Linked DNA regions of Homo sapiens. The protein of the gene in region 4 purifies or fractionates together with the protein of the main gene of each other region. This does not show direct contact. Each region holds a gene or a part of one and is shown on either strand. Other genes may lie near its edges.

Region 1 (7,120 bases), on a different chromosome or scaffold from region 4:
CTAATACAGTGGTAGCTGCTGGTGCTATTAACAACATAAATGTGGCCCTTTCCATGAGCTCATGGTCTACTCAGGAGGCAGATGAGAAAGAGTAGATAATATTTTAAAGAATGTTTCTCAGAGTCTCCAGGGCAATTCTAAAAGATCAAAAATTATTATTTTTTTGAGACAGGGTCTCACTGTGTCACCCAAGCTGGAGTGCAGTGGCACGATCTCAGCTTACTGCAACCTCCGCCTGTTGGGTCCAAACGATTCTCCTGCCTCAGCCTCCTGGGTAGCTGGGATTACAGGCGCCCGCCACCACGCCCGGCTAATTTTGTATTTTTAGTAGAGACGAGGTTTCACCACATTGGCCAGGCTGGTCTCAAACTCCTGACCTCAGGTGATCTGCCTGCCTCAGCCTCCTAGAGTGCTGGGATTACTTGAGCCACCGCACCCAGCCTCCAAAAATTATTTTGACCCATTGCAATATTGTCGGAATAAGAATATGTACAACGTCACAGTATGATTACCTTAAAAGTAAATTCTGGTATGCTTTTTTGGTGGTGGGTTAGGGGGAGCATCACAGAACTTTTTATTTTTTGAGATGGAGGCTTGCTCTGTCACCTAGGCTGGACTGCAGTGGCATGATCTTGGCTCACTGCAATCTCTGCCTTCTGGGTTCAAGCGATTCTCCTGCCTTAGCCTCCCAAGTAGCTGGGATTACAGGCATGTGCCATTGTGCCTGGCTAATCTGTGTATTTTTAGTAGAGATGGGGTTTCACCATGTTGGTCAGGTTGGTCTTGAACTCCTGACTTCAGGTGATCCGCCCACCTCGGCCTCCCGAAGTTCTGAGATTACAGGTGTGAGCCACGGTGCCTGGCCAGAGCTTTAAAATCACACATTCTAGCAGCAATAGGCAAATACAGGCCACCTTCCTTCCTTAACACTTACTTTCTACTTTTGAAGTCTGAAGATTTTCTATGGTCAAACATTTTCAAAAGGTTTGAATATATCTTTTCTTACAAATGTTGGAAGCAGCAAAGTAACAGTGCCAGATAAAAACTCCTTGGCTTAAGCAAGCTCACACCTACTGGGATCCTTTCCTTTCCAGACAATGCACTGCTTGGCCCACCCACTGGGAGCATGTAATATTGGCCTTGTGTAGCATCCTATAAGATTTCAGTGTGATTGAGAGGAAGAGGAGGAGGAAGCCTAAGAAACAAAACCTCTACACTCGTGGCAATGGTAGTCTCGGGCATCTTCTCTTAACCAAAGCTGTTTCTAGACGAACAAGTCTATTTCCTATTCCTTGGAGGCACAGATAGTCCTTCTGGAATCTCAGCCCTGATTTTGCTAAGTCTCAGCCATTGAGCTCAAGGCACGATGTGACAGTAGTTCTCAAAATGTAGTCCAAGGATCCATAGGTGTTCTGGAGACCATTTCAAGGTGTCTATCTGTATTTTGTATTATGAAAGCTATTTTCATAAGACAAAATTTTGTCTTATGAAAACTGTTTTCATAATACAAAATTAAAGAGTCTATTTTTTTCACTGTTATCTTGTCAGTGACTGCACTGTGATCTCAGGACAAACTGAATATAAGAGATGTGAGACTCTTGCTGTTCTCTATCAAGCCATGCATTAAAGAGATGTGCAAAAATGTCATTCTTCTCACTAAAATGTGTCTTTGAGTTGGAAGATTTTTCCATAAAAATTGTAAAAATTTCAGTAAAACTTTTTTTTAGAGACAAGGTCTCGCTGTCACCCAGGATGAAGAGCAGCAGTGGGATCATAGCTCACTGCAGCCTTGAACCCCTGGGCTCAAGCAATCAATCCTCCTGCCTCAGCCTCCCAAGTAGCATGAAGCCGCTACGCCTAGCTAATTTTTTTTTTTAAACTTTTTTTTGTAGAGATGGAACCTTGCTATGTTGCTCAGGCTGGTCTGGATCTCTGGCCTCAAGCAATACTCCTGCGTTGGCCTCCCAAAGTACTGTGATTACAGGTATAAACCATCCATCGTTCCTGGCCTGACATAAAAGTATTTATAGTAACAGGAAACATGTTATTTTTCAAAGGGATTACTTTAACACTTTCTATCTTAATTTTTAATATACTAAATATTGATAGAATGCACATAAATGGAAATGCTCTTAAAATTTTTTTTTCCAGACTATGAAGGGCTGCTGAAATAAAAGTTTGGGCACGGTGGCTCACGCCTGTAATCCAAAGCCAAGGTGGGTGGATCATCTTGAGGCCGGGAGTTCAAGACCAGCCTGGCTAACATGGTGAAACTCTGTCTCTACTAAAAATACAAAAAATTAGCCAGGTGTGGTGGTGCATGCCTGTAATCCCAGCTACTCTGGAGGCTGAGGCAGGAGAATTGCTTGAGCCTGGGAGGCAGAGGTTGTAGTGAGCCAAGATTGCGCCACTGCACTCCAGCCTGGGTGACAGAGCGAGACCCCCCTCAAAAAAAAAAAAAAAAAAATGAGAACCACTTTCTAGCATAATGCTGGCTGCACAGGAAGCACCGAACACTGACTACCAGACCATCCAGCATTCCACACGGTTTCCATACAACTTGTGTGATTTTTCACACACACATTTTCAGGAAAATTGGATGCCAGATTTAACAGTTTCTTCTGAGGTTCACTTTGACCAAAAGAAGAAAAAAGATAAAAAGCTTTTAGGAACAGATGAGAAGAACCACATAGTCCTTAACACTGGGAGTATGACTGACTACTGCATGTCACTTACAGAATTATATGTGTAATTTACATCCAAGATGAAACTTGCATGTCAAGCTTTTGAGACTCAAACCAGAGCAACTGCAAGCTTCTCACTAGCATCAACTGATGAGCACAAAAAAATTCTATCTTTGACACCTCTAGGTTCATGTAGTTTAAAAGAATATGGTTTTGTTCTGGGGTTCATATACTACCATTCCTCAATGAAGCTATTTTAAGTTAAAAATATTAACATTTGGTCAAACACAGATTTATAATTATCTATACAAACCTGGAGGGGCCCAAGATAGCTTGTAAGGTGGACTTTCTGAATTCTAGTACATGGTAGAATGGTCAACTCTTCAAGATAAATCTTCAAGGCAACAAAAACTTTGGGCAGATCTGTGGAATCTGGAATCAGTAACCCTGCTTGAAACCAACACTGCTCCCAAAGCCAGAGAAGGCTTCTGCCTTAGTTGTCGTTACGTGACAAAATTCACAACCTAACCCAGACCTAAGCACAGAAAGCTTTTATTACCACAGAGGAAATCAGGAAATGCTGGAGGCAGCCTCGTTAGCTGTGTGATCAGGGAGGGGACAGCAGGCGGGAACCCGTCATCAATCATGTCTGGGCAGTCTCCCAACCAACAGGTTTGTTTGGTTCAGGAGAGGCTTTTGCTGGGCTGTGTGTGTGTATGATCAGGAAGGTCAGCCTCAACAAATGGGCTTCTTCCTGGACATAGGACAGCCAGAATCGGGGACACCAGCTGCACAGACACCACCTTAAAATGGAAATCAAATTAGGTTCATTACATCAGGAAGTACATTTCACCCTGATCATAAAAGAGGGACAAGGGAGCACTGGGCTCTACTGGATAGCCTTTCTTTTAGATAAGATGCTTTTAAAAGTTAAACATTGGCAGGGCCTTTCCCCTAGCTAACAGCAAGCAGCACACAATTCCAAGTCAGCTTGTAAAGCTTTTGTTATCTTTGTTATCTGTTATTATTTGGATTTTGAACGAAATTGATGGAGTACGAGCCGGTAGAGGAATCCTGTTTGATCTGGAAATTTTCCGTGGAGAGCCCAAAAGGTCGGAGAACCAAGTTCCCAAGATCTTTTAATTTACCTGTAATGTAAAAGCAAAAACTCAAATGAATACAGGAATGAACAGAAGCAGGAAGGTACCAATTAATCTTGCCTTACCACTGAGTACAAAATATAAAAGTATCTCTTTGCAGTTAAAGAAATGCCTACTTTTAATATGATGAAAGCTTCCAGGAGAGTTCCCAGCCCCTATTCCCCACTCAGCAGTGCAGTCACTTTAATGCCATCCACCCTCAGCCTGTGCTTGCATAGATGAGAGTGGAGTCCTGCTGGCTCTCTCTGGGAATCAAAGCCTCCTGTCCTAACTGGCCAGTGCTATCAGAGGACACAGGCTTCTGGGGTGAGTTCTGGGAAAACCAACTGCTGTTCCAGTGAGGCTCAAGGCACCCTGCCAAGCCAGGTCTGCCTGGTAGTGAGGGCAGAGGTCCCTCCAAGTCTCTTCTCTCTAGAACGGCAGCAGCCACCTGCTAAATGTAATTCAACTCAGCCCATTTCCACTGAGCTTGGATTCATATTCAAGAGCTTCCTGCTTTCCTAAACAAATCCTTAGCTTCTATACCAGACTAGCCATTTCTTAGAAATGGGATCATCTTGATTTGCACAGCAACCTCAATAAGACCTCAATAGTCCAGCCTCCTCTTCCCAAGTTTCAGGCTTTATTTACACGACTTGGGTGAGGTATATAGGATGGGCGTGGTGGCTCACGCCTGTAATCCCAGCACTTTGGGAGGCCGAGATGGGTGGATCACCTGAGGTCAGGAGTTCGAGACCAGCCTGGCCAACATGATGAAACCCTATCTCTACAAAAAATACAAAAATCAGCTGAGGGTGGTGGCATACGCCTACAGTCCCAGCTACTAGGGAGGCTGAGGCAGGACAATCGTTTGCACCTGGGAGGCAGAGGTTGCAGTGAGCTGAGATTGCGCCACTGCACTCCAGCCTGGGTGACAGAGTGAGACTCCGTCTCAAAAAAAAAAAAAAAAAAAAGTCATGGTCTATAGCCAGCGGTTCTTGCCAAGCATGGTGACTCATGCCTGTATTCCCAGCACTTTGGGAAGCTGAGGCAAGAGGAGGGTTTGAGCCCAGGAGTTCAAGACCAGCCCGAGCAACGCAGTGAGACTCTATCTCTACAAATTTTTTTTTTAAAAACAAAAAACAGTTCTTATGCTGTTTTAAGATATAAGGAACATCTGAAACTAGGAATGTTCCAGAAAATTTTGGCAGGGATGGGTGAATAAACAGTTTCAACCCTTTCTAAACTGCTTTAATTTTTCTTACAGGTCTACTTCCAGTGGAGGTGAGAATGGGGGTGGACGAAAAGAGAAATCCCTAATCACCAGAGGTACAGGCTCCTTCCCACTTCTTAGCAGCTTTTCTCACTCTGAGGCCTCCCATCTTAGAGTAAAGCCCAGGTAAAGAACTTAAAGGTGCATGGCCTTGGCTGGGTGCAGTGGCTCACACCTGTAATCCCAGCACTTTGGGAGGCTGAGGCAGGAGGATCATGTGAGCCTAGGAGTTTGAGACCAGCCTGGGCAACATAGGGAGACCCTGTATCTACAAAAATTTAAAAATTAGCTAGGTGTGGTGGCACACACCTGTTGTCACAGCTATGCAGAGGCTGAGTTAGGAGGATTGCTTGAGCCCAAGGAGTTCAGGGCTGCAGTGAGCCATGATCATACCATTGCACTCCAGCCTGGGTAACAGAGCAAAAAAAACGCATGGCCTTTACATTTTACAGGCCTCCCTAATAACTCATGGTGAGAACTTTTAGTCTCAGGCTTAAGAACTAGCCCAAGGAAGCTCACTATGTCCAGAGAAAGGCCAACCCATCTTTGGATAAAACAGTAAATTGAGAAAGCTCCCAGAACCTGGGATGGCTGTTCTCCAGGCAGGCCTCCCAAACCTAAACCTGGGACACACACGTTCTGTGCTGCTGCTTGTGTCAGGAAATCACTGGCATAAACCCTGGGTGCCTGCACAAGGCAGCGGCACAGCCTCGGGCACATGGGCGTAGAGGGAGGGGCTCACAACAAGCAAGAGAAAGACAGGGCAGCCTCAGGGTGACCTGAGTTAGCAACACCAACCAGGAACGCTGGCAGTTTGTTCTGGGGTTGGAAAAAGAGGACAGGAAGGGGGAAAAAAAAAACCATCAAAAGCAGCCCAAGAAAATGTTGGTACTGGGAAATCCTTGGCTCTTGTGATATGGAGTGAGTGAAGTGAGAATGAGTATCAAGAGCCACTCACATCAGACTCCTGAGGAGGGGCAGCTCCATGGTGGAGAAGCCTACTCTGGATGGTCCACTGAGCCCAGGGCCATTACATGGATGGAGGGATCACTGCAAGCCCATCTCCAGTGCCAGAAAAACAATTTAAAGTACAAACTGGAAATTTTACTTGGCATCTATCATGTAAGCCACTGGGATGTAAAGAATAAAAGTAGCTTCTATGCACAATGCTCAGTCTAGTGGGGAGGCAGACCCAAAAGACGGAGGTGTGCCCAGAGGTGCTTTCTGACCTTGCAGTGGCACGAAGAGGCTACATGCCACAGTGCTCCGGGGGATGGGAATAGGTCCAGGGTGGTGGCATGTCACCGTGCTCCAGAGATGGCAGCTTCCTCAGGCAGCAATGGCTTGGCTTTAGGCTGGTCTGCACTAAAGGAGGTTTCCCTCTAGTGCAGAAAGACCATTCCAAGCTAAGACTGCAAATATTCAAACTGCCGACGAGAGGAAGAATTCTCTTTCCCAGGCCCTCGTTTTGCCTAACTGGCTAAAGGGCCTGTGTGCCACAAGCCACCTTTGAACTTTTAGCTTGGTTGATTCTATGGTGTGGCAGTCATGAAGATGTATTTCTCCAAATGCAGGGGACAGAGTGGCTGCACTCTAAAATCCATCAGCACATTCATGCAGAGGCCACCCTTCCCACCTGCTGCTTCCAGCCAATGCCTGAGCATGGGAGGGACTCGTCTGAGGGGCAGCACTGGCTCCCCAATGGCTTTGCTGAAACTTTCTCAGCACCACACTCCAGTGGAAAACTTCCCCGCTCCCCCGGCCTTTCCTCCTCCACAGGGGTCTGCCAACTCTGCCAACAGCCTCCAGCTCCCAGCCCCATTTTCCCTTGCAGGTGTTTCCCCCAGTAAATCTCTTGTACTTTTAATCCTATCTTGGCATCTGTTTTTTGGATGACCCAAACTAACACATAGATAATTATTCTTTTTCCTTCAATTCCAGTATCTCTGCCTTTATAACATTTCACATTAGTTTCACCGACCATCACTTAAGGGGGAAAAAAAAAAAGAAAATGCGAAATTCTG
Region 2 (7,990 bases), on a different chromosome or scaffold from region 4:
CATGTCCATGTTACTTCAATTGGTTAAATTTACCAGAGATATTACTCTGCAGAATAATCCAAAATTACTTGAAACAAAGTATAAACTTTTCCTAATCTTCTTACTAAATTTCAGTTAAAATGTATTATATAAGGACAAACTTAATGACTTGTTTGGCTGGGCGCAGTGGCTCACGCCTGTAATCCCAGCACTTTGGGATCACTCAGGTGATCTGCTCACCTGAGGTCAGGAGTTTGAGACCAGCCTGGCAAATATGGTGAAATCCCGTCTCTACTAAAAATACAAAAAAATTATCCAGGCATGGTGGCACTTGCCTGTAATCCTAGTTGCTCTGGAGCCTGACGCGCAAGAATCGCCCGATTCCGGGAGGCGGAGGTTGCAGTGAGCTGATATTGCACCACTGCACTCCAGCCTGCGTGACAGAGTAAGACTCCGTCTCAAAAACAAACACACAAAAAAAGACTTGTTTAAAATCGAGAATGTCATGATTGATGAAAAGAACTGGTTATCAATATTTTTAAAAATTATTTAAGTAATATCTTAGGAACATCATTTATATTTAAAAATCAGTCTGGGTATAATTGAGACACAGCTTTTTAAACATAACATGCATTTATCTAGGGGCCTTTGTCAGAAATCAGAGCTTTTATTATGTTGGTCTAAAGTTAGTACATTTCTGGTAATGGAAAAAAGTGAACCAGTTTAATTCCCAATACCTAGACAGGTGGAAGCAAAGCTCTGCCAGATCCTGAAAGAGAGAAGCAAAGATATACTCTGAATGTATTTCCATCTATTCTATTTTGATAGAAAAATGGTTTACTATAACATTGGAATATTGGGAGAGGAGGGTTTAAGCTGGGAGGTTGATGGGATTCGGGGGAAGTATAAGAGGCACTCAGGAACCTGCCTAAGAATAAAAGGACTCCCTGGGGGTGGAGGTAGAGGGGTGGGGTTGGGGAGATCTGTTAGCTTTTATGTATTTCATGTTATTCTTAAGATGGATAAATGGGTCTGAATTTAGTCACTACTTTTTGAAAGTCAGTCCTCTTTTTTTTCCGAACATCCTGATCTTTCTAGCTCTTTCCATTCTTCTCTCTTACAGACCTTTATCTTTCAGTCTCCCAGACAGGACAGGTAGACAAGGTATTGCTGACTTTGAGAAATATGTACTATAACAAAGGGAAAGCAAAATGATGTCAAAGGCAATTAATTATTTAGGCCAGACTCAAAAATTCTTTGTGTTAATAAACCCATATAGTCCCTGTAGCCTATTTTCCATTCTAGTTTCTCCTTGTAGTTTCTTCATCTTTTATTGGACTTAGTGTATTTTACTAGTATATCATTGATGTCATGTTTGTTCTGTTTTGTCTGCCTGCATTGTAAAAGGAAAGTTTAAATTTTTTTTAAACACTTGTCATCTAACTGACAAATTGCATTTGCAGAAGTGACAATTTACTTTGTATATAAAAACGTAAAATTTATTTTGAGCATCATATAGCAGAACCAATCTTAATTTAACTCTCACAGATTTGTTTTTTTTCCATCTCTAAATTAGGATTCTAACATAAAATTGCCTGCTGGGTTTTGGAAGCTGTGAATTTAAAAACCAAAAGCTGAACCTTCAGAGTTTTGCATACAAAATGGGAAGCAGTGAAGGCTTAGAATAGTGACTGTTAAATAGTACTTTTTCCCCTCAAATGGTTTTCAGTTCCAAAGTCTTAACAGAATTGCTTTTACAGTTTTGACCTGCAGGTGCATATTAACAGTGGCCAACAGAAAATAAGATCAGAAATCTTATAAAACTTGACTGTATTTCAAACTAGAATGCTCGAAAAATGGAATTACCAAATTACCAAATCACCAAAATACAATGGGTTTTCATTGTAGCAAACCTTCTGACATCCAAACATGTCATAATCAGAATCAATAAAAATATATTAATGTTTTAGTATTGAATTAAAAACCCTGAATATTTTTGCAAAGCGTATTGGCAAATATTGGAAATATTTTTAATAGACCTCTAGTTTTACAAAACTAATTTTTCTTCTGATATTTCCTGTACGTTTTTTCACACCATAAATTAACTGTGTGAATTACTTTTTTAAAAGTTCCATGTACGTGGTGATGAGCAACTATTTTGTGTGAAACCATGTAAGCAAAAGAAATGTTTATAAGGTCTCTGATTGAAAATTTCAAAATAAAAGTAATTTATTGAGTCCTATGGAGGAAAAAATGTATAAACTTACGAAGTTAGATTATGCACTTACTAATTAGAAAAACATCACTGAGAATTGATGATTGTGGTGATATCACAAAGCATTGCCTTTTAGCCACTAAATTTTTACTTACTCTCTCGATGTGTTTGAGAAGAAGTAGCAACATACAGGTGGCTTTATAGTATCTTATTTTGAGATTGTGGGCTATGTCACAAAACTGGGGTACCGTTTTTGGTCCCTCTATCCATGTTATTTTGTCCCTCATATAGAGAATACATAGTAGTCTCATTCTCACCATTGGTCAGAATTATTGCCAGTTTCTGTGTTACAGTATGTAATTTATTACTGCTATTTTCCAGCAAAGAACCATTAATCACTTGGGTCTGTTAACTTTATTGCTAGAACTGTTAATTGGCCTTTTTTAAAAAAAATCAAGTTTCTGTTTTCAAAGAGGAGAGAATAAGAAAAGTGGCTCTAAGGTACTGATGGTGGAAGGTCAGCTCATGAGCTGGTTCTGCCTCTCTACCTTGACATACACATTTGTCTTGTACTTCTACAAAATTATGGTGAGAACCCTTGAGGTCACTTGTAATGGTCAAAACTAGTAATGATAAATCCATGAAAGTCATTAGTCTGCTCTCTTTTTTTCATGCAGGCAAATCCTATGTTTGAAATTAAAGCTATAATTGAAGATAATCCGTACAAAATGACTAATAATTTGGAAGGTTTTTTAAATTTTTGAGCACTCTAATTTTGTTAAAACTGTGAAACACCATAGTTATTGCTGTCTAGAGAATTGTCATGAGCTTATCTAAATGTTTATAATTGCAGTATTAAAGCACTGCCATTAAAACAAAGCCTATTATATATCCCCAGATTAAAAGTTATTCTACCTCGTGTTGAGGGATTTTTTAAACTATTGACATTTTCTTTTTTGCTCAAAAACATGCTTTCAAAATCTGCCATTATTTTGTTAATGATTTTGAGTCTGAAACCATTTAATATTGTGTTTATTAATGTTGGTGTTCTTTCACTTTGCTGTTAGGTCAAAATTATGAATGTGCATATAGCAACTTCCAGCAGGAAGGGTGGGTAAAGGTTTTAATACGTACAGTTTGTTCCAACTACCATCTTATTATGCTGTATTCAAACTTGAAAAAAAAAAAGATATTTTAAGATGGTAGGATGGTATTTTATGTCTTAGATGAAATAAATAACAAGATTACTCTATTACTTTCCTTTTCCCTTCAAGAAAGTTGATTGTTTATTGCATGAGGAAAAGGGAGCTTTCAGGGTCTTCGAAATACATTTTAGTAATGCTGCTTTTTCAGTTTTGCTTGCACATATTTTGTTTATTTTTGGGTCTGGCAATTTAAAAACAAAATCAAAAACAAATCATATCCATCCATTACTATCTTTGTGATTCAAGTGCTTGAAATTTCCAAGAGTATGTCTGTATAAGTCTTTATCTGTTTGGCCTCATTTTGGTATACTTGCAGACTTCATTTTGTTTTCTTTCTCTTAATTCTGTTAATTTATTTAATCTCATGGGAGAGAAAACATGATCATTCTTTTATATACTGTACTTCATTCTTTCATCCAGTTCATATTCTTAACTGCTTTGGATTCATATATTTGTTTTTATTGGTGTAGTCGCTGCAGTTTTACCTGCCATGGTGGTGCTCAGGTATAACATAGATGGAAACAAGTTATTTCTCCAGTAGAATTTCATTCTTTTTATTTCTGCTGTGTGTCAACTATATAATCTTAAATCTTTAAGAACTATGTTGTACTGTCAGAAATATCTTACTTTTACGTTTAAAAATGTATTTACAGTAATCCCCCCTTACCTGTGTTGGGTACATTCCAAAACCCCCAGTGGATGCCTGAAACTGTGTATACTACTGAACCTTATATATGCTATGTTTTTTCCTATGCATATATACATATGATAAAATTTAATTTATAAAATAGGCACGGTAAGAGATTAACAACTAATAATAAAAGAGAACAGTTATAACAGTATAATGCAATAAAAGTCATGTGAGGCCAGGTGCACTGGCTCACGCCTATAATACCAACACTTTGAGGGGCCAAGGCAGAAGACTCACTTGAGGCCAGGAGTTTGAGCCAGTCTGGGCAACACAGTGAGACCCCATCTCTACAAATGTATATTTTTTACATTAGCTAGGCGTGGTGGGACACACCTGTAGTTCTAACTATTCAGGAGACAGATGGGAAGATCACTTGAGCCCAGGAGTTCAAGGCTGCAGTGAGCCATGATTGCATCACTCACTCCACTGTGGGTGACAGAGTGAGACCCTGTCTCTTAAAAAAAAAAAAAAAAAAAAAAGTTATGTGATTGAGGCCTTTCTCTATCACAATATTGTACTGCACACACTTATTTTCAGACCACAGTTAACCACGGGTAAATGAAACCATGGAAAGTGAAATTGCGGGTAAGGGGGGACTACTGTACTGCTAACAAGTCAGGTAAACAATTTCTGTAAGTTTTAGCGTTGAAAAGTTAAGTGTTAGTAAAAGTTATTTTGTTGCTTTGAATGTATCTTACTGGAAAAAAAAAAAATCTTAACCAAGATGAAAATTACTTCATACCTCTGTGTCAGCAAACTGATTGCCTAATGGAAAGTTACTTTACATTTTATGTTTTAATAAAAATGTTTCAGGCATCACTTTCATGAATGTCTGAAAATGAAATTTGTTTTATAGCCATTCTGGTGTTGACTGAGTGACATAAAGTCTTTTTTTTTAGCCCTAAATTTTTATATATAAACATTGCTAGCTGGTTTAAACATCTGTTGATCAATTGTCCTTATCATATTTTCTCAACATTTTATATTTTGCATAATATGATTTCTTTTTAAAACGTTAGTTTAATTAAAACTTAAAGCACCTATTACAACTTTAAATTTTCCTACCATTTAAATTCATGGCATACTACACAAAAGTATTGAACATGCTTGAGAAATAATTTGATCCTCCTAATTCATTTGCGTGTTCTGAATAGTTCCTATCTTTTGCATGTCTATGGCTTGCTGCTTATGTTTAGAAGAATTGTAGTTTGTTGTACTTAGAAACTTCTTTTGGTTTTACATATTAAGCACAAATATGCTATTTAAATCAATTGCTATATTGACTTTATGTATTCTTGTTAGCAGCCAACAGTCGACACCATCTTTGGTCACAATGATACAACTCAATCTAATGAAATTTAACAGGATGCATTTTTAAATTTTTTTAATTTATTTTTTGCTTTAGTTTAGCTCTTCATGGTACAGGATATTATGGAAAAGAGAGCTTCATGTACATTTAATACTGAAAACATTATGTTTACTATTTATAAGTGTAAACCATAGTGTCCAATAAAATACACAGATAAACACACACACACACACGCACAATTTCTCTCACAATAATAAAATCCCTTAATAATTCACACCTTTAAAATATTTATACTCAAATATTTTGTCAATACTTTTCTATAGTCAGTTCATTATTTGTCTTCTTTATGGAAATTCCTAAGTAAAAATAGTGGCAAATTGGTCTTTTAACTAGAAAAATTACAAAATCCTCCTATCTAAAAAATGATACTACCTCCAGGACGTCTGCAATTTTGTAAATTTTTCTTCCTTAGTAGACAACATACTTCCTGGTAAAAGAAAGCCAAAAGATGGTAAACCTCTTTGAATTGGATTCTTCTTTGATCCCAACCCACTCTAAATTTTGGTAGCTAGACCTTTAACTTGAAACGATCAAATTAAAGACCCTTTCAAATATTATACATGCTGCCTTAATTATTATTTAGTTGTATCTCCAACATCTTTGGGGGAGCAGGAAGGAAGGGGGGGTAACAAAAACTTCATTGCTTCAGGTAGGTATAAGTATAGAGGTCAATCACATTTTTAGTTGTACATCAAAAATAACTAACATCCATTAAATTATAAAACTTCTCCAGCCCTATTCACTATTTAATTGGGTATGGAGTTATTCATTTGTATCACTCTTATCATTGCCTGTGTAGAATATACTTATTATTAATACTATTCTACTAATTTTTCTATTATTTCCAATTCTGAATTGATAATCCATGGCTTTTATTTCATTGCTTAACAATGTTTGTATCCTTTATTTAGCAAATAGTTTACACTGGCCTATTTTGTATCAGTCAAGATTTTTCTCAGGTAACAGCTTTATTATTATTTTTATTTTAATTAACAAAGGTAGGATTACATAAGAAAAGAAAACTAAAATTATGAAAAGGGACCTTAAAGCTAGTGTTTCTAATTTTATGGACATTGCCATATATAATCTAATCAAAGTGGAAGATTCGTTTTTGTTGTCTATTTTTGTACAAAATGATGCCACTGAACTCAGATGTCTTTGTTGACTTTGCTTTATTATATAGCCTGAATAAAAAGTAATGAAATGTAATTGGTATATAAATTAAACCTCAAATATGAAGGCTGTTAACGTAGGTGAGAAAAATGATATGTATGCATTTTCTTTTATTTGTAAGCATATTTTCTTTTAAAATTATTTCACAAATTACAAATGTTCCTACTAATAGGAAAGCCAAATATTATGCACTAGTGGTACTTACTGGAAATTTTAGAATTCATTTATTTATATTTACTACCTCTTGCATTTATGCTTTTCTTTCTCTAAATTTGTAAACTGTAAGCTGAATATATGTTGCTGAATCTATGCTATATGACAAAACATTTTTAATCGTTATATTTTTACTAATGCATCAAAGGGTTGGAATGATCCTCTTCGTGTAGTTTCATCTTTAGGCAGAACTATATTCTTTGGATTGAGGCTTTACTTGAAAGCCTATTTTTTTAATGTTCTAGAACTTTATTAGAAAAGTTTAAAAGAGCCCTCACAATTTAAAAAACTAATTTTATTGTTTTAAAATGTTTTAAGGGTTTATCCCTAAGAAATTAAACAAGCACAATCTATTACTTGCAATTTTTATTTCACAGCACATATTGCTAATAAATGCCATTTTAAAAGCAAAAGAAAATCTATCACAATCGTTGCAAGAGATATTTAATAAGGAAACTAATGTAAATCATGCTTCATGCTATCTGTCAGTTAAATCAAGATATAGGTGAAGATTTAGGTTTTATCATGTGAATATTGTGTGGTAGTGCACATTAATTTGTATTTAAATCTTTACATTGTTATCATTGCATGTGTTCACTGTATTTTTTAATGTGTCACTGTTTTCTCTTTATAGATTAGTATTTCAAAGTAACCATTCCATACCAATTCAAACTACCATCTGGTCCCTAAGCTTGTTATATGAAAATCTTTTATCATTGTCTTCCATTGTAAGTGTTTTATGATGAGCTACACCTGAGTTGTACATTTTCTTTTTCTTTTATTTGCTTCTGTATACAGGCTGGCTTAGCAGGAGCTCCAGCCCGTGCTGTATCAGCTGTAAAGAATATGAATCTTCCTGAGATCCCAAGAAATATTAACATTGGTGACATCAGTATAAAAGTGCCAAACCTGCCCTCTTTTAAATAAAAATGTAAAAAGGCCACTCCCAGGTAAAATCCAGGGGGAAGAGTCATCTAAGTTTACCATGCAGTTGTTTACCAAAAATAGAGGAGGAGAGTCTTAACTTTTGCTCTTGGATTTAAGTCAAGGTACTGTATAGAAGTTGTGTAAAATCAGTATGAAAGTTCAATGTTGCTGTTCTTGCTCAGTGATTTTAAAGAAATTGAGTAGTTCCTATGTGATTT
Region 3 (8,167 bases), on a different chromosome or scaffold from region 4:
TGTGTATTACTGTATCATAAGTTACCTTGAAATATGTCATGAGAACTGAGGGGGTGGGGAACAACACTCCATCAATATAATACAGAGTCCTCTAGAAAATCATCACATCCTACCAAACAAGACAGTAATATAATCGTTTAAAAAGGAATCAGTAAAAATTTCCTACCCACTGATATATGAGAAGGAAACAGATTTCACTAGTTCATCAAGGGAACTAGCAATTCTTAGGATTAAAGGGCAAAGGTAGGAATAAAAATCTGAGACTGTCCTCCCTTAATCAGTGGGGAAGGCAAAGGGAGGTGGAAGGGAAATGAACCTGGGCTGTAAACTCATCCATTTCAGCTTTGTGACTTTTTAGCAAGGTTTCTCAAGTTTTAAAATAGAGGTAATTTTACTTCCTTGCAGGGTTTCAGTGAACTTAAAAAGATAACATAAATATCACTGTAGCTGATTACTATCGTGTTACTGAAGAAAAGAGGGAAAAGATGTTCGATGGCTTGCTACTGAAGGTAAAACTAATTTAGTATTTAGATAAGACATGCTAATAATCTAAAAGGTACTCAGTTTCATATTCTGGTTATTGGTTTGTTTAACAAATACTTTCTAATCTCTACTCCCACTACTATTTTGGAGAATCATTTCAAGGCACTTAGATTTATAATCAAGTATTTTTTAAAAACTTGTCACAAAGTCTTTCAAAAGCATTTATAAAGCATTCTATGTAAAATTTAGAAATAGATTTAATTTTTGCCAACAGGCTTATGCCATATAACTAAAGTTAGAGGTGTAAATGTTATATTTTATCTGACTCCTTTCAAATCTAAATGACAGCTGAATATTAATATTAGTCACATTTACAGGTCTAGAAATTCAAATGTAGTGGGAAATACAAAAAAAATGTCTGTTTAGAGGTTTTAATTTAGCAAAGTGTTGAGTATTTTCAGATTAAAATTGTCTAAGTTAGGTACTAAGAAAAAAAGACAACTGTCATGAAAATCACAAATAGCTCCTTTCTTATTTGTTTGTATTCAACTCAATACACATTTACTTGGCACAAATAATTTACAAAGAACTGTACTAGATACAATGGGGAATATCAAGGTGAATAAAACTGTCCCTATTGCCAGGAAATAAATACTTACTTAGTATTTACATTCTTGATTTTAGAATGTTTATGTCTTCTGCCAACCAGTCAGAATTGCCTAGTTGCTGAGTAAAGTGCACAGTTTTCTACATTAAGGTGGACATGCAGGGTTGTTCCATTAGAAAGATGTTAAAAGGGACCAAATCTTATAGTAATTACTTGAATGCACATATTTGTAATTCCCCAGGATGTGCCTACAGTGACAATTCATTGCTGTCAGTGAAATATTTTTCCACTTGGAAAAGATTCCACACCGAGCTTCCACCTGAGGAAGTCAAAGTCTGAAAAGTCTGAGAGCCACTATTCAAAGGAGCTCACAAAACAAAAATGCTTAAGAGCTACTATACTATGGGAAGTCTTCTTCACTCAGCTGAGTATCTGGACGGTAGGAAACGATGTGTTATGCATTACGTAGACTCACTGCCTAGCAAGTTATCTGACAAACACTAGGAAAGAATTCTATATATGTGTATTTAATAACTCATGTGGCAAAGAGTAATAATCAGTATTAAACCAATTTACAGACAGATATGAAGTACTAAAGGAAATCAAGAACGTACTGAAATTAGAGAGCTCTAGATTGTCCATCAATTAAAATAAATAAACTCTTCTGAGAACTGATGGGGAAAGTCAGAAAAAAACAATAAATAAATAGAATAATTTGTAAGATTTGAAATGTTTTACAAACCTTTCCTGCTGCTTGTCGATCACTTTTAAAAATTACAGTCTCCTCATTAACTGGAGGTAGGTTAGTCATAGATTCAATTATTACTGAAAAATAAAATAGATTACTTCAAGATTTACTTATAAGAGAATGTAGAATTTTAATGAAAATCTAAGCTTTAATTCCAACATAATTTAAAAAAAAATTGAAGGTGGGATTATTACCTCATTAACCATTTTCTCTTCAGTAAACAAAGTCTACTTATTACCAAATAGCACTGGGAAATGTTTTTATACCTATTTTTAATACAAAAAGCTATAATTCTAAGGGAAAAAAATTAAAATGCAAATCCCACAGAAAATCTGAATCATCCATTAAAGATTCAACAAATTCAAGCTATGTACATATTCTCAAGTAATTTTTACCAAAAATAGTGTAATCACGTTTAGTTGTAAAACTGTTTTAGAAGAAATTAGTCTTCTTTCTCACTCTTAAAAATTCTTTTCTACAAAGCACTGTTTAGTTACTGGTATATGAAAAAGTTAAATAAAAGGCTTCACAAAAGCATCTTCCTATGAACAGAAGAAGTAAAAGTGCTAGAGCTCACAGTAATTTTTATCATTACATGAAAATTCCCTCCTCAAAAAGCAAAAACATAATCTCCAAATCTCCAGTTCTTTTAAATGACACAAATATTAAAGAACTGATCTACCATAACAAAGAGAAAACACACGCACACACAAACACACTCTCAATAAGTTTTTAGAACATCAGAGCCACAAGTAAGAACACTGTTACATTACATAGATAATACCATGTCAACTAAGGGAATAAAATATATTACCTCAGATTATCAAAATTAATTCAAACAATTTCTTTTGTATCTCAATTAATTTTAACAGTGGATACTTCAGGCTGGGCACGGTGGCTCACGCCTGCAGCACTCTGGGAGGCTGGCGAGGAAGGACGGCTTGAGCCCAGGAGTTTGAGACCAGCCTGGGCAACGTAGCAAGACCTTGTCTCTATTAAAAATCTCTATTAAAAATCTGCAACAGTAGCATGTGCTGATTTTGACCCATTTACTCTTTATTCCCATTAGGTTGAGAATTTTTTCAGTCTATGTTAGTCAAAATAGTATTGTTAAAAATGCAAAAATGACATGCATTATTCCATGTACGTCAGAGTTTACATTTATTTTTTTGAGGATCAACATTATGACCTAAAATTTTTCTGTATACATCAAGTCTAATAAATGTTTAAATCATACCACATAATCAAGAAATTAGTTGCCTGTTTGATTTATCTATATATATTATTAAATACCATAACTCTAAAACTAGTAAATGTAATGATTCCAGAATCACGGAAAGAATTTTAATTATTATTTTTGAAAAGAAGGTTCATTTTAATCTACATTTTTATTAATAAACTGAAAAAGTACAAAATTATGTAAGTGTTAATTTTTAAAAATATCAATATAGACACTGTTAGAAAAAAGTCAAAAGAAAAAGGTCCTATTTCTACCACTGACTCACTATACAACTGGTCCTAAGAGCAACTGACTTGAATTTTTCTGTTTCCTCAGGTCCTGTGGAGGCTGGTGGGCAATCTAGGTCCTCTTCACAGTTCCAAAATCCTATTACTTTGTCAGTGCTGAGTTCTATTCTCCAGCATATCCTACTACGAGTTAATAGTACCTATATTAACAAGAATCTCACAGAACAAACTCACATGTTGGGGCTAAAGAAGTCTAAAATATTAAGTTCTCTTATAACTCAGCAACTTCATATTTCATGCCATTAATAACAGTATTAAATTACAAAACTTTCTCACATGTTTTTAAGACAAAATCAAAGGTGGTGAGCAGAATGGCTCCCCAAGAGATATCCACACTCTAAATACCTGAATCTGTAAATACATTACATTTTTAAGAGCCTTTGCAGATGTGATTAAAGTTAAGGACCACGAGATAGGGGAGATTATCCTGGATTATGCAGGTAAACTCAATCTAAAAAGTCTTTAAAAGCAGAGAACCTTTCCACATGTGGTTAGAGTGAGGTGAGATAATGGAAGAAGGCTCAGAGACAGACGTTACATTACTGGCCTTCAGGATGAAGAAAGAGAGCCAAAAGTCAAGGAATGTGGGCAGGCTCTAGAACCCAAAAAGAGCAAGGAAGTAAGATTCTCCCCTAGTACCTACAGAAAATAACTCAGCCCTGTTAACACCTTTGATTTTAAGCCCACTGAGACCCACATGAGAACTGTATGATAAAATTGTGCTGCTGTAAGTCACTAAGTTTGCAGTAATTTGGTATAGCAACATTAGAAAACTAATAAACCAAATCAAAGGAAATTCCGGAGGAAGTATGTCAGTAAAAGCAGACATTTAAATTTCTATAAATAAACTGTATTTATATATAATTTTAGTATATGAAAACTGAATTTTATCCCTTCAAACTTAATGACTATAAAATAAAGTGTTAATTACGTATGTCAAAGAAAATTTACTAGTCATAAAAGTCATTGATTCAATTATTAGTGTGTGTTTGGAAACAATTTTTATTAATAGAATTCTTAACATACCTAGTTGTTCAATAATACTTGAAACCATCCCAAGAGGCTTTAACTCAATATCTTCAGGCAGAATAATAGTGAGTTCTTCAACAGAAGGCAGTTCCTATAATTTAAAACAAAACAAAACATTAAACTTCCTCCAGCTTCAACAACTTAAAAAAAATAAATTTTCCATTTTAAGTGCTACACATCTCTGAAAATGCTTTAAGTGCTTAGAGCATCTCTTTAATGTTATCATTTTAGTGGTTGCAGACTTGTGATAGCACTTCTCTCCCTCCAACATTTCTCCACCTAAGTGACTCAACAGGTCTCAAGTATACACCCCAAATTCAGTTAGACTAAGAACACAGACATAAGTACTATTCTACATTCTTTCAGTCACACTTGAACAAGAGACTACCTACTTCCTGTAAAAAAGGCTATTATCAGGCAGAGACATTCCATTTGAAAAGAAATAATTCTACTAGTAACTATAATTTCTCCACATAAGTTCTTTTAGCTGTCTTGTTAAATTGGTTAGTTAATTAGTTTGACTGTGATTAAACAGAACACAGAAGCAGCAATCTTTTCTGCGACTGTGTCAAGAAGAGTTGAATGGCCTCTTCAGGAAAAAGGAAATGACACCTATCAGTGAAACATTGAAGTCCTGAAAAAAGAATATAGGCTTTAGCCTATAAAAACTATGAAGGTGTTGCCTGATACCTTCTCTCTCTAGGTTAAAAAATAAGTTTCTTTACACCTAAAGATTTCTCTTTTCTTACCCACCTGCAAACTGCATCTCAGTTGCTATGGAAACTAGATATTGAAGTACAGATGAATCTGAAGAGAAATCTAAGAATAAATCTGACCTTAGCCTTTAGATTAAAAACACAGCTTTCTGTTCTTGACCCTTGCCAAATGATCTAACTCTCAGAAGGAAGCTTTTCCTCAAGATGGCTTGAAGTGCAAAGACCCTACCAATGGCATTTTAGCAGTTAAACTGGGAGAAGGATAACTTTTGGAGAAATGTTGGAAAAGGTGGGAAAACCTACATAACATGAAGTATACTGCAGACGAATGCATCCTGAGTAATCATATTACCCCTACGGAAACTTAAACTAGGTTCTTAAAATCATTCAACCAGAGTTGATAAGCAGACATCTAAAATACACTTTGTTTCTGGGATATGCTATTTTCTGATACAGGATTACTTATGGAGAGCAACACTACGGGTCTCAACCAACTGATGCAGAAGGAAGTCAGCAACATGCCTTTGTATGGTTAGTCTGCCTGGTGTTAGAGGAAATTATTTTGTTTTATCCATCAGAATTCTTATGAGTACTTTCAAAGAGAGAATAACCACTTGCCCTTTCATCATATTAAACGTGGAAAGCCTTATCTTGGGAAGACCATGGTTTGAAAATGGTTCATGTGTGTATCAGAATGCAGAAGGGAGTTTAGTTGTTAGAACAAACTGTGACATTAAATAGCCTTTTTACAGAAGTTCTTAGCTAAAGCAATCTCAAACCTTGTTAAATACAAGACTGGATAACTATAATTTTGGGGGACTGCAGAGAAGAGGGCTTTAATGATATTTCAGAGGGCAATTGTGAGGGGAGTTTCACATTGACTCGGGTTCTGGGAGTGGCTCCTCTTGTTAAGTGGCAAATGTCATTTGCTAATCCAGAAGTACAGTGATAAAATCTGTCCCATTACCTAGCCAAATTATAAGATCTAAAACAAAAATTTGAGTACTTTTGGATTGGGATAAAGCCTACTGGTTAAATATTCTCAAATAAACAAGTGCTATTTAACCAGCAGGAAAGGCCCCTGGTTTTGTATTTTCTATTATGAGAAATAAAGGCCCATGTAATATAATAGTTATGCTTTGATATAAATCTAAACTGATACTGTTTTGCTTTTGTTGTTTGTTTAAAGTAAAAAAGTAAAACATGTTCCTATTTTTACAAAAGGAAAAATTCAAGCAGTTATGGAAGGATACAAAGTAAAAAGTGAAAATTCCCCTACTTTATTCCTTTCAACCACCCAGTGCCAAGCCCCATAGACAGCTAATGTTAACATGTATCTTTCAAATACCTTTACTATGCAGATATAAACTTTAATTCTAACTTCAAAATATTTTTTACTTAAATAAAATATCCATATTTTAATACAAGGTACCCTTTTTACTGATCATACCCTGCATATCTTTCTATAACAAACAAAAACATATATCTAATTTTACTTAAACACTTAGGATATTCCACTTTTATCAGTGGTACTATAATACACGAGCTGCCTGACACAACATATATCCTTAAACACTTAGGATATTCCACTTTTATCAGTGGTACTATAATACACTAGCTGCCTGACACAACATATATCTGCCCTTTCAAAACTTTTGCCACTACACACAATGATACAACATTCTTTTACATATATCTTTGTGTAACCCCTGTGATAAATTATTTTAAGTGGTCCTGATAGACTAAAACACATGCATATTTAAAATTTTGACAGTTACTGCTAAATTTCTTCTTAAAAAGTCACGTCAATTCACATTTCCACAATGTATGAGAGATTTCCCCACAACCTTGCCATTACTGATAAGTAAATTTTAAATCTTTGCCAGTCTTATGAATATAAAATAGTATCTTGCTTTAATTTGAATTTCTTCATTCATAAAGAAGAGTGAACATCCTTGCATGTATCCTGGCCATTTTTATGTGTGTTATGAATTGTTTCTTGTATAACTTTACATATTTTTTAAGGGCTTATCTTTTATTAATTTATAAAAAAAAAACCTTTGGATTTTCAAGGACATTTGTCTTTTATCAAATATGTAGCAAATATCCACTCCCTTACCCCACAGCATGTTTTTTAGCTAAAGAAACTAAACAATTTCAGTCATTTAGTTAACCTTTAGCATTTTAATTTTTATGTAGTCAAGTATATATACATATTTGGCTTTTGAAACTTGTGTCACATTTAGAAAGGTCCTCCCTATCCCAAAATCACTGAAAATTCACTATTGTTTTCTTTATTTCTCTAGTTTTTTTTTTTTAATATTTGTGTATTTGGTCCATTCACAATTTTATTCTTGTATAAAAGTGCAGCAGTGATTGGCTTTATCTTTATCCAAACTACTAGCCAGTTATCCTGACATGCTGTAGAATAATCCATCTTTTCTCTCACTGATTTGAAAAACAAACTTTAACATATACTAAGTACACTTATATATTTGGGTTTTTTACTGAATCTCCATTCAATTTCACTGATCTAGTTCAGTGTCAGTACTAAACTATTTTAACAACTGTGGTTTTCATAAAACATTTCAATATTTGAGATGACGGGCTAGTTCCTTTACCCAATCCATAAATATTTTTCCCCTTGGAATTTTTTTTAACTGTTCTCACATATTTATCTCACTACACTTCAGAACTATTTTGTCATATTAGTGTTATCAGTATTGATTGAGATCACATTTAATTACAGTTGTCTTCATAAAGGGTCCTATACAAATGCTTAGGCTTATTCCAAGCTATTTTATATATTACTTGCTATTATAAATTCCTATCTAATATATTTTATTGCTATTACAAATAGACCCTTTATAGGGTATTGCTTGAACATAAGAAAGCATCATGCTGAAATTTACTTTTAGTAATTTTCTTGTATATTTATTATACAACCATATTTTCAAAGAGTAAGTTGTCCTTCTTTTCAATATTAGTACATGGCTTTCATTTTTCAGATGATACTGGTTGACAATTCCAAATTCCAGAATCTCAAATATGAAACAA
Region 4 (8,167 bases):
CACACACGGGTGTGATGGTGTTGTCTCCACACCACTGCGGCCTCACACCTGACGTTCAAGGGGCTCAGACAAGAGCGTCTATGAGGTTCTCTCCAGCTGTCAGTTTAGGGCGGGCTGAGCCGTAGTTGCATCATCTTTCAAGCTGTGCGACTTAGTGCAGTTGTGAAGGTCAGAGGTAGGAAGCATGGTCCTTGCTACAGATGGTGACCATGCTCACCCAAGTCCATTCAACACAAACTCAGTGAGTGCCTGTGATGGGCCAGGCTGTGTCCTGTGTTCTTGGGAGACTTCAGCCAGTGAAGTGCACAGGTGCCCGGCGTGTGGGGAGGAGAGGTCTACGGAAGCAAACCTCACAGGAGGTGAGGAGGAGGGGGTGGAGGCGGCTGGTTGTGTCCAGTCTGTTGATCGAGGCAGGGCCCATCCAGTCAGTGGGGAGCCACACAGATGTGGGGAGAGTGCTCCAGGCAGAACCGGCAGGCTGAGCTGAGGCTGAGAGCATGAGGTGGGGTTGGCAGCACTCAGGAGGCTGCCAACACAGAGGCCCCGTGGCCTCAGCAGGGTGAGTTGTGGAAGAGGCCTGAGTGACGCGGGCCTTGGATGAGTCCGTGGAGAGCTGACAGGGCTGCTGGCCGCTGTGCTGGGTGTGGACCGAAGGGCGCTGAGGGTGAAGGCAGAGATGAGGCGTTGAGGGGGAGGTTGAGCCTTTACAGCCATCCACAGAGCGATGGCAGCACTGGCGGGCTGTGGGCAGAGCCTGGACAGTTCTTTGGTTTTTCTGTTGTTTCTAATGCTTGCTTAATGTTGGTCTCTTTCAGTGTCTTTGGTGCAACACTAACAAGGCTTGTCTGGACTACCCAGTTACAAGCGTCTTGCCACCGGCTTCCCTTTGTAAATTGAGCTCTGCACGCTGGGGAGTTTGTTGGGGTAAGTCATTGTTTTCATTTGCTGCTTGCAAAATCGATGCTTCTTTGAAAATAGTAGTATGGGCCGGGCGCGGTGGCTCACGTCTGTAATCCCAGCACTTTGGGAGGCGGAGGCGGGTGGATCAAGAGGTCAGGAGATTGAGACCATCCTGGCTAACATGGTGAAGCCCCGTCTCTATTAAAAATACAAAAATTAGGTGGGCGTGGTGGCATGCACTTGTAATCCCAGCTACTTGGGAGGCTGAGACAGGAGAATTGCTTGAACCCGGGAGGCGGAGTTTGCAGTGAGCCGAGATCGTGCCACTGCACTCCAGCCTGGCGACAGAGCGAGACTGTCTCAAAAAAAAAAGAAAATAGTATTATGTGCTCAGTTAGCAGAAGTTGCTAGAAAATGTGCTGCCAGTAGCTCTGTGACTCCCAGGGAGAGGTTGGGAAGCCAGGGGTGATCTGCTGACCGGGAAAGCAGCCCTGGGGAACCTGGAGGACCTCCTTCAAGGTGGTCAGCCCCAGCACTGAGCTCTATCTCACCACGTTACAGAAGGTGTGGGGAAAAGGGTGAGTTTGAAGGCAACGTGTTTGACTTCTCTGCTCAGTATGTTTTGTTCATGTGTCACCCCTGAAACTCACCTGTGAATTCCCCTAGAATCTCCAGTTTTCCCAGCTTAAGAATCCCTGCTTGCGTAGACAGCCCTCTTTTTTTGTGTGCGTATCTTTGTATATTTGATTTTGGAGGCGTTTTTAAATTAAGGAAATCAGCTCTTGTGAGATTCAAGTTGTTTTCTAGTTTGCCTTTATTTATTTATTTATTTATTTTTGAGACGGGCTGGAGTGCAATGGCACTATCTTGGCTCACTGCAAGCTCCGCCTCCCAGGTTCACGCCATTCTCCTGCCTCAGCCTCCTGAGTAGCTGGGACTACAGGTGCCCGCCACCACGTCCGGCTAATTTCTTGTATTTTTTAGTAGAGACGGGGTTTCACTGTGTTAGCCAGGATGGTCTCGATCTCCTGACCTCATGATCTGCCCACCTCAGCCTCCCAAAGTGCTGGGATTACAGGCGTGAGCCACTGCGCCCAGCCCCGTAGTTTGCCTTTTAAATCAGTTTGTGGTGTGTTTTGTAACCTAGAACTCATTATTATGTAGTTGAATTTATTAATCTTTTAGGCTTCAGGTTTTGGGGTAATACATAGGGTTCCTAAACTTTGTAAAGAAGCAATATTTTCTTAAGGTGTTTTGATGATTCTTTTTGTTTATTTGCATCTTGGATCCCTCTGCAACTTACGTCTTACTTACCACTCTTCTAATTGATTTCCATTTCAAAATCTATCAGCCTCCATCTGAAACAACTTGTTGCTGGTGTTGAGGCCCTAGAGAATTCAAAAGTTTGTGTGGTGGTGGTGGTTGTAGTGTGGGATGTCTGGCAGGGGGTGGTGGTGGTGTGTGTGCACCTTCATGTGTGATGTGTGTACTGTGTGTGATGCATGTGTGTTTGTGAACTCATCCCTTCCATGGAACTTCTCTTAATGACCACTCTGAAGACACAGCTCCTGGACCTGGGGAGCCTTGCCCTTTGGAACACCTGTTCTGGAGGTGTTTTTAATGGCATGTAGCTTCTCATGAAGTGCACACATCTGAAGTCTCTCTCTGCATGGACTTTATAGCCTACATAATGCACACATGTGTGCCTGCATGGACCGCAGTTTATAGCCTACATAATGCACACGTGTGTGCCTACATGGACCGCGGCTTATAGCCTACATAATGCACACGTGTGTGCGTACATATATTCAGTGCATTTTTGCATACGTATACAGGTTATCACCACTCACAGCAAAGTAGGTAGGACTTCCAGGACTTTCAGAAGGCCCAATTCCTGTCAGGACCCCCATGGGAGCCACTGACTGGACTTCCCGTCACCACAGATTAATGTTACTGGTTCCCGCCTTTATGTGGAGGAAATCCTGTGCTTTATTGGATGTTTTATTCAGCATGTGCCCGAGATTCGTGTCAATTGCCTGCACCAGTTATCTTTCTCGTGCAGTGTTCTACAGCTGTTCAGCCATGCTGCCACTCAGGGACGCCTGGGTCCTTCTGGTGCTGCTGTGAGCGGTGTTGTGTTGGTGCCGGCACAGGCGCTCACGTCTGGAGGAGTGTAGGGGTGGAGTTGCTGTGTCACGGAGCATATTTGTGTTTAGCCTTAGTACGTCTGCCAAATGTTTTTGGAGTGGCTGTACCAGTTTGGCCTCCCTCAGGCAATGTGGGACTTGGTTGCTCCACATCCTTCCCAATGTTTAGGGTAACCAGTCACCCTAAGTTCAGTCCATCTAGTGGGTGTGTAGTGGTGTCTTGTGCTTCTCACCTGCATTTCTGCAGTGACTAGCCGATCGTGCTGAGCACCTTTACAAGTGGTGGGTGTTTTTGACAATTCTCTTGTGAAATGACATCCCCACGCTAGGCTGCAGAAGTGGATGGACACACAACACCCAGCCCTGCACATGAGAGCGGCAGCAGGTGACTAGTCACAGTCACAGTGGGGAGGGGGCACCACACGCCACGCAGGGTCCCGCAGGGGAACAGGGCTCGGGGAGGCAGCCATTTCGTGACAGGAGGGTGGGGTGCGATGGGCTTGTTTGGTTAATTCTGAGGCTGAGAGGGAACTGACACCTGCTCCTCCGGGAGAAACAGAAAGTGTGCCTGGCCCTGCCGGGAGGAGGAAGAGGCTGTCTGAGCTGGGACCTTGTCCAGCCTTGCCCACGGGAGCAGAGTGGGGAGGAGCAGTTGTGGCCGGGCCCTCAGGGCCCTCCTGATTTCACCAGATGCCGCGGCGCACATGATACCCGTTTTAGGTCTTGCACCACAGGTCCTTGTTTATTCTTACAGGTAACCTTAGAACCATTTTATCCAGTTCTAGCCAAAATTATTTTGGAGCTTTAATTGTAATGGCCTGATAAACATGCTTACTTGAAGGAAAATGAAATGTCTACAGCGTTGGCCGTTTGTCCAGAGGCAAAGATGCCTCTCTTTCAGGCCTCTCCCACATCCTTTGGTTCAAGTTCAAGTTCATGGGTTTTACCCTATGGAATCAGCAAAAGGAGCCCAGAGTTTGTTTCCCATTGTGACAGGATTTCTGTTTGTTTTTAACTAGTTTTAGCTGCTAATCAGAAAAGCTATCTGAGGGGTAGATATGTTTTAAGGCCAGCCATCTTGTTGATCTCATTGGAGTTCTCCAGTCAGAAAATGACATCTTCTGCCAATGAAGGTCCCCTCTGTAGTTCTCCCTCTTACTATAATTTTTGCAATTCTACGCTTCCAGAACAGGTCAGAGGAGGAAAAAACACAGGATTAAAAGCTCAAAAGGCATTTGATCAGATGTAACCTCCTATTCCTGATTTTCAAACTATTTTAATAAACTAAGAAATGCGGATCTCAGCGTCCGGGGCAGCAGAGGGGTGAGGCTGCGGGAGCCCCAGAGGCCTGGCCGTCGGCCTCCTTGCCAGGGCCCAGGCATGCAGCAAGTGTTCAACTCCCAGCCCCTGGAGGTGAGACGGTGTCACCTGTGGTGGTGGCACAGCTATTAACTGTAGTTAAAAACAGTGAATCATGCGGTAATCTACTGCCCAGGGGAGTTTGCTTATAAAGCCATCTTCAGGAGGCTGGCTGGGTGTTTTTTGTTTGTTTCAAGATGGTGTCTTGCCGTGTTGCCCGGGCTGGAGTGCAATAGTGTAGGCACGGCTCACTGCAGCCTCAACCTCCCAAGCTCAAGCGATCCTCCCACCTCAGCCTCCCATGTCGCTGGGACCAGAGGTGCATGCACCACACCCAGTTAATTTGTTAAACAGTTTTGTAGAGATGGGCAGGGCTGGGTCTCACTTTGTTGGCTGGGCGGGTGTTGAACTCCTGGGCTCAAGCAATCCTCCCGATTTGGCCTCCCAAAGTGCTGGGATTATAGGTGTGAGCCACTGTGTCCAGCCAAGGAGGCTGTTTGAACTACATGATTGAAAACACATTTGCAAAAGTAGTTTTAGGGTATTTTTTAATTGCCTCTGGTTTGAACTGAATGGAAAAATCTTGGCTGATTTCAATGTATAGATCTTCAAAAGAAGTTTAAAAGGATAGTAAGATCTGTTTTAAATGTGCACGTGTGTCTGAAGGCTGGTTAAGGAAATCATAACAGGGTTTGGGACCGATTAGCCAGCCGTTCTTCAGCCCCAAGGTCCTCAAAACACTCAGATTTGAAGATGATCCCGTCTTGTTCCGTGGTCTCGTCCGCTCCTCCACGGTCATTCTTTTCGAACCTGGCCGCCAGTATGTGCCCTGAGAGTCTATTTCTCTTGTAAATCATTGTAATATTCTTGACTTTGGTTTAAATAAAAAAAAAGAAAGCTGCATCAGGCTTAACCTCCATTTCTGTGAGTTTAGAATGTCTTACGAGAGTCTGAGTATGTAGCTTGGAATTTTGGTTAGTTAACTTTTCTCAGGCTTGAAATACCTTTTCAAACTCAGCTGAGACAGACTACCCTGTCACTTCAGTTCATTATGGTTAATATTATAAATTGTTAATAAATTCTAAGTCACAGATAGGAACGTGTGGCTGAAAGGAGACTTGGAGAGGGCGGGACCCTGTGGGGTGGAGGCAGGGCCACAGGCTCTCCACACGCCAGGAGCCAGCAGCCTGGCCGAGGCGGCTTTCCTCCTTATGCTCCTGTGTCCTGAGGTTGTTCCCCAGGGGCGAGGGAAGGCTGCTGTGCTGGGTGGGTTCTGTGTCTGGGGCGGCCCTAACTCCAGGTGCTTGAATCTCCAGTGAACTTTGAGGCGCTGATCATCACCATGTCGGTAGTCGGGGGAACCCTCCTCCTGGGCATTGCCATCTGCTGCTGCTGCTGCTGCAGGAGGAAGAGGAGCCGGAAGCCGGACAGGAGTGAGGAGAAGGCCATGCGTGAGCGGGAGGAGAGGCGGATACGGCAGGAGGAACGGTGAGGTGGTGGTGATGCCCGCTGGGAAGGTTACTTCGAGGGGATTCAGATCTGCAAGGCCATGGAAATCACATGGATACATCCTGAGTTTTCCTCAGTTTTTAGAAATTAAGAATGTGTATAGTGCCCAGGGGATCTTCTAGGTCGTGGTAGAGAGCGAGAGACTGTGATGGGAACCTAGCAGTGGCTGCGAACCTTGCTTCTATAGGCTTCCTCGCCCGGTGTCCTCCCATCGGTGCAGTAAGGCTGAGTCTGTGCGCGGTGACACGGGTGTGTGACGGCTGCTAAGGCGGCTCGTCCAGGCCCAGCATTTGCCAAGAGCAAGCTGAGGCTCAGAGGGGACAGCGTCTGACTGTGGCTGGGTCAGCTCTCCTGTCGCCCTTTCCCTGGTGACACAGCACTCTCCTGAGTGCTTGCTGGGGCTCTGGGGCAACCCCAGGAGGAGGTGGTGTAATCCACACCTGGCAAAGGAGAGGACCTGAGGGGCCAACTGTCAGGTTGGCGGCGGGCGAGGGTGGAAGCGGGACAGATTTTCCATGTAGTCACCTTGAAGTCACATGCTACTAAGTAAAAGCTGACAATCGCATTTTCCTCACCATCTTCAGAACCTGGTGTATGATTTTTACTGTGTTTTCTTTGTATGAAAAAAGCTTTTTAAAAATCACGGTATTGGGCATTTGAATTGCTTTTATTGAAAAGAGTAGAGTAATACATTGGAACGGCCTTTGAAGACTGGGTTCGTTGTCACCTTGCCTGTCCTGGTGGGTATGTGGCCTGATGACCAAGCTTGTCCTCACCCTGGTTTCACTCTGGGAACTGGAGGGAAGCCACCAGAAGAAACCTGGCGCCCCCACTGAGGGACACGGAAGGGCGTGTCTAGCAGTTACACCACCGTGCGCTGTCGTTTGGTGCTCATAATGTTCCTCTGTGTTTTAGGAGAGCAGAGATGAAGACAAGACATGATGAAATCAGAAAAAAATATGGTAAGGACTGGTCACGCCTCCTTTTTGTCTGGTTGGGAGGCGATGGCACGCTGTCTCGGTCCTCGTTAGTGCCAGTGTGGCCTGAGATGGGGCTGTGGGTTCACCCATCGGAACAGAAGGACGTCTCTCCAGAGAGGAGCAGCTGGCGGTTGTCCCCAGCGGTTCTGTGGTGAACTCACTCCTAAGAATATCTTTATCTCAGCCAGTCGTCTTCATGAAGTCTGTTTTCTCAGATAGCTGTTTGCTTATCGAGTCCCAAGACTTCTGGGCTGGAAGTCTGCAGCTGTTCTGCCGTCGTGTTTGGCTTCCTGTGGGCACGCCTGCGTAGCCGAGGTGCTGTGAGTTTCAGGGCGGCCCTCTCATCCTCGGGAGCGTTGCTCGTTGCCATCTTCTGAGTGTGGCAGGCGCTCCTTCCAAGCACTCCCCAGCACCGGCCCTGCTCCTTCTCGCCCAGCCTCGGCGTTCTGTTCTTGTTTGGTTGTGTCTGGAGAGATTTTGGAGAGGAGCTTTGAAGGAGCCAGAATGAATGTATTTGCCAAGTGTAAACCTTTTATTTAGTTGGAGTGAATTGGAAATACACATTACGTTATCTATACTCCCCCAAACCACGTGATGTTCACTGCTTAACACTGAACACCACCACCCAGCCGTGCTTCGTTGATTCTGTATGATTTTAAAGTCCGCAAAGAGTCTAGTGTCTCCCGCGCTGGGTTTGTGGTTGTGTGGTGTCATGGGCGTCTCCCGCGCTGGGTTTGTGGTTGTGTGGCGTCATGGACATGGTGGGAACTGACTCCTCGCCTGTGCGAGGTGCGTGGTCCTGGGTTCATGGCAGCCGTGGGCCTCAGGAATCTGTCGTCCTGCGCCCACGGTGCTTTCCTTGAAGCAGTATATTAAAGGCTAAACCTAATTGGAAAATTTCAGAGCCTTTTCTGACTAATGCACGTGTTTTGAGTCTTCTGTTTGTTTTAGGGAATATCATATATTTGTGGTATTTTAGGGTCCCACCCACTGGGGGCATGAGGACGTCGCTGCGGTTCTCGGTCATCGGGTGGGGGGTGGACGGCAAAGCCCAGCAGCCACTGTGAGCGGCGCCTCCGTCAGGTGCAGGTGATTGGCGTTGGGTTCCCTCTCATGGGGGCTGCAGAGGCCCCATGCTGCTGGTGCCCTGGACTGTAAACGCTGGGTGGCTCTGCCCACTGGCCGGGACGTCCCCTCCCTGTCAGTTCTGGCCTCCTTGGAAAGTCACCTCCATGTGACTGTGCTGTGACCTGAGGCCACGTGAGTCCTGCC

Evidence for each region.
Region 1: the proteins of PTTG1IP (region 4) and TTC1 fractionate together in Homo sapiens (co-fractionation; one large-scale study listed by BioGRID). This does not show direct contact.
Region 2: the proteins of PTTG1IP (region 4) and AP3S1 fractionate together in Homo sapiens (co-fractionation; one large-scale study listed by BioGRID). This does not show direct contact.
Region 3: the proteins of PTTG1IP (region 4) and NAF1 fractionate together in Homo sapiens (co-fractionation; one large-scale study listed by BioGRID). This does not show direct contact.

The regions. Positions count from the first base shown.
Region 1 is NC_000005.10:160,061,644-160,068,763, reverse strand, and holds the end of TTC1 (tetratricopeptide repeat protein 1), read right to left. Parts: intron 5,223-7,120; exon of another isoform or gene 5,108-5,222; coding exon of another isoform or gene 5,091-5,107; intron 3,833-5,090; coding exon 3,699-3,832; 3' UTR 3,221-3,698; downstream 1-3,220.
Region 2 is NC_000005.10:115,905,719-115,913,708, forward strand, and holds part of AP3S1 (AP-3 complex subunit sigma-1), read left to right. Parts: intron 1-1,102; coding exon of another isoform or gene 1,103-1,138; exon of another isoform or gene 1,139-1,143; intron 1,144-6,370; coding exon of another isoform or gene 6,371-6,418; exon of another isoform or gene 6,419-7,637; intron 7,638-7,643; coding exon 7,644-7,772; 3' UTR 7,773-7,990. UniProt on the Homo sapiens protein: Part of the AP-3 complex, an adaptor-related complex which is not clathrin-associated. The complex is associated with the Golgi region as well as more peripheral structures.
Region 3 is NC_000004.12:163,143,950-163,152,116, forward strand, and holds part of NAF1 (H/ACA ribonucleoprotein complex non-core subunit NAF1), read right to left. Parts: intron 4,486-8,167; coding exon 4,392-4,485; intron 1,916-4,391; coding exon 1,833-1,915; intron 1-1,832. UniProt on the Homo sapiens protein: RNA-binding protein required for the maturation of box H/ACA snoRNPs complex and ribosome biogenesis.
Region 4 is NC_000021.9:44,853,920-44,862,086, reverse strand, and holds part of PTTG1IP (pituitary tumor-transforming gene 1 protein-interacting protein isoform 1 precursor), read left to right. Parts: intron 1-815; coding exon 816-924; intron 925-5,722; coding exon 5,723-5,894; intron 5,895-6,830; coding exon 6,831-6,877; intron 6,878-8,167. UniProt on the Homo sapiens protein: May facilitate PTTG1 nuclear translocation.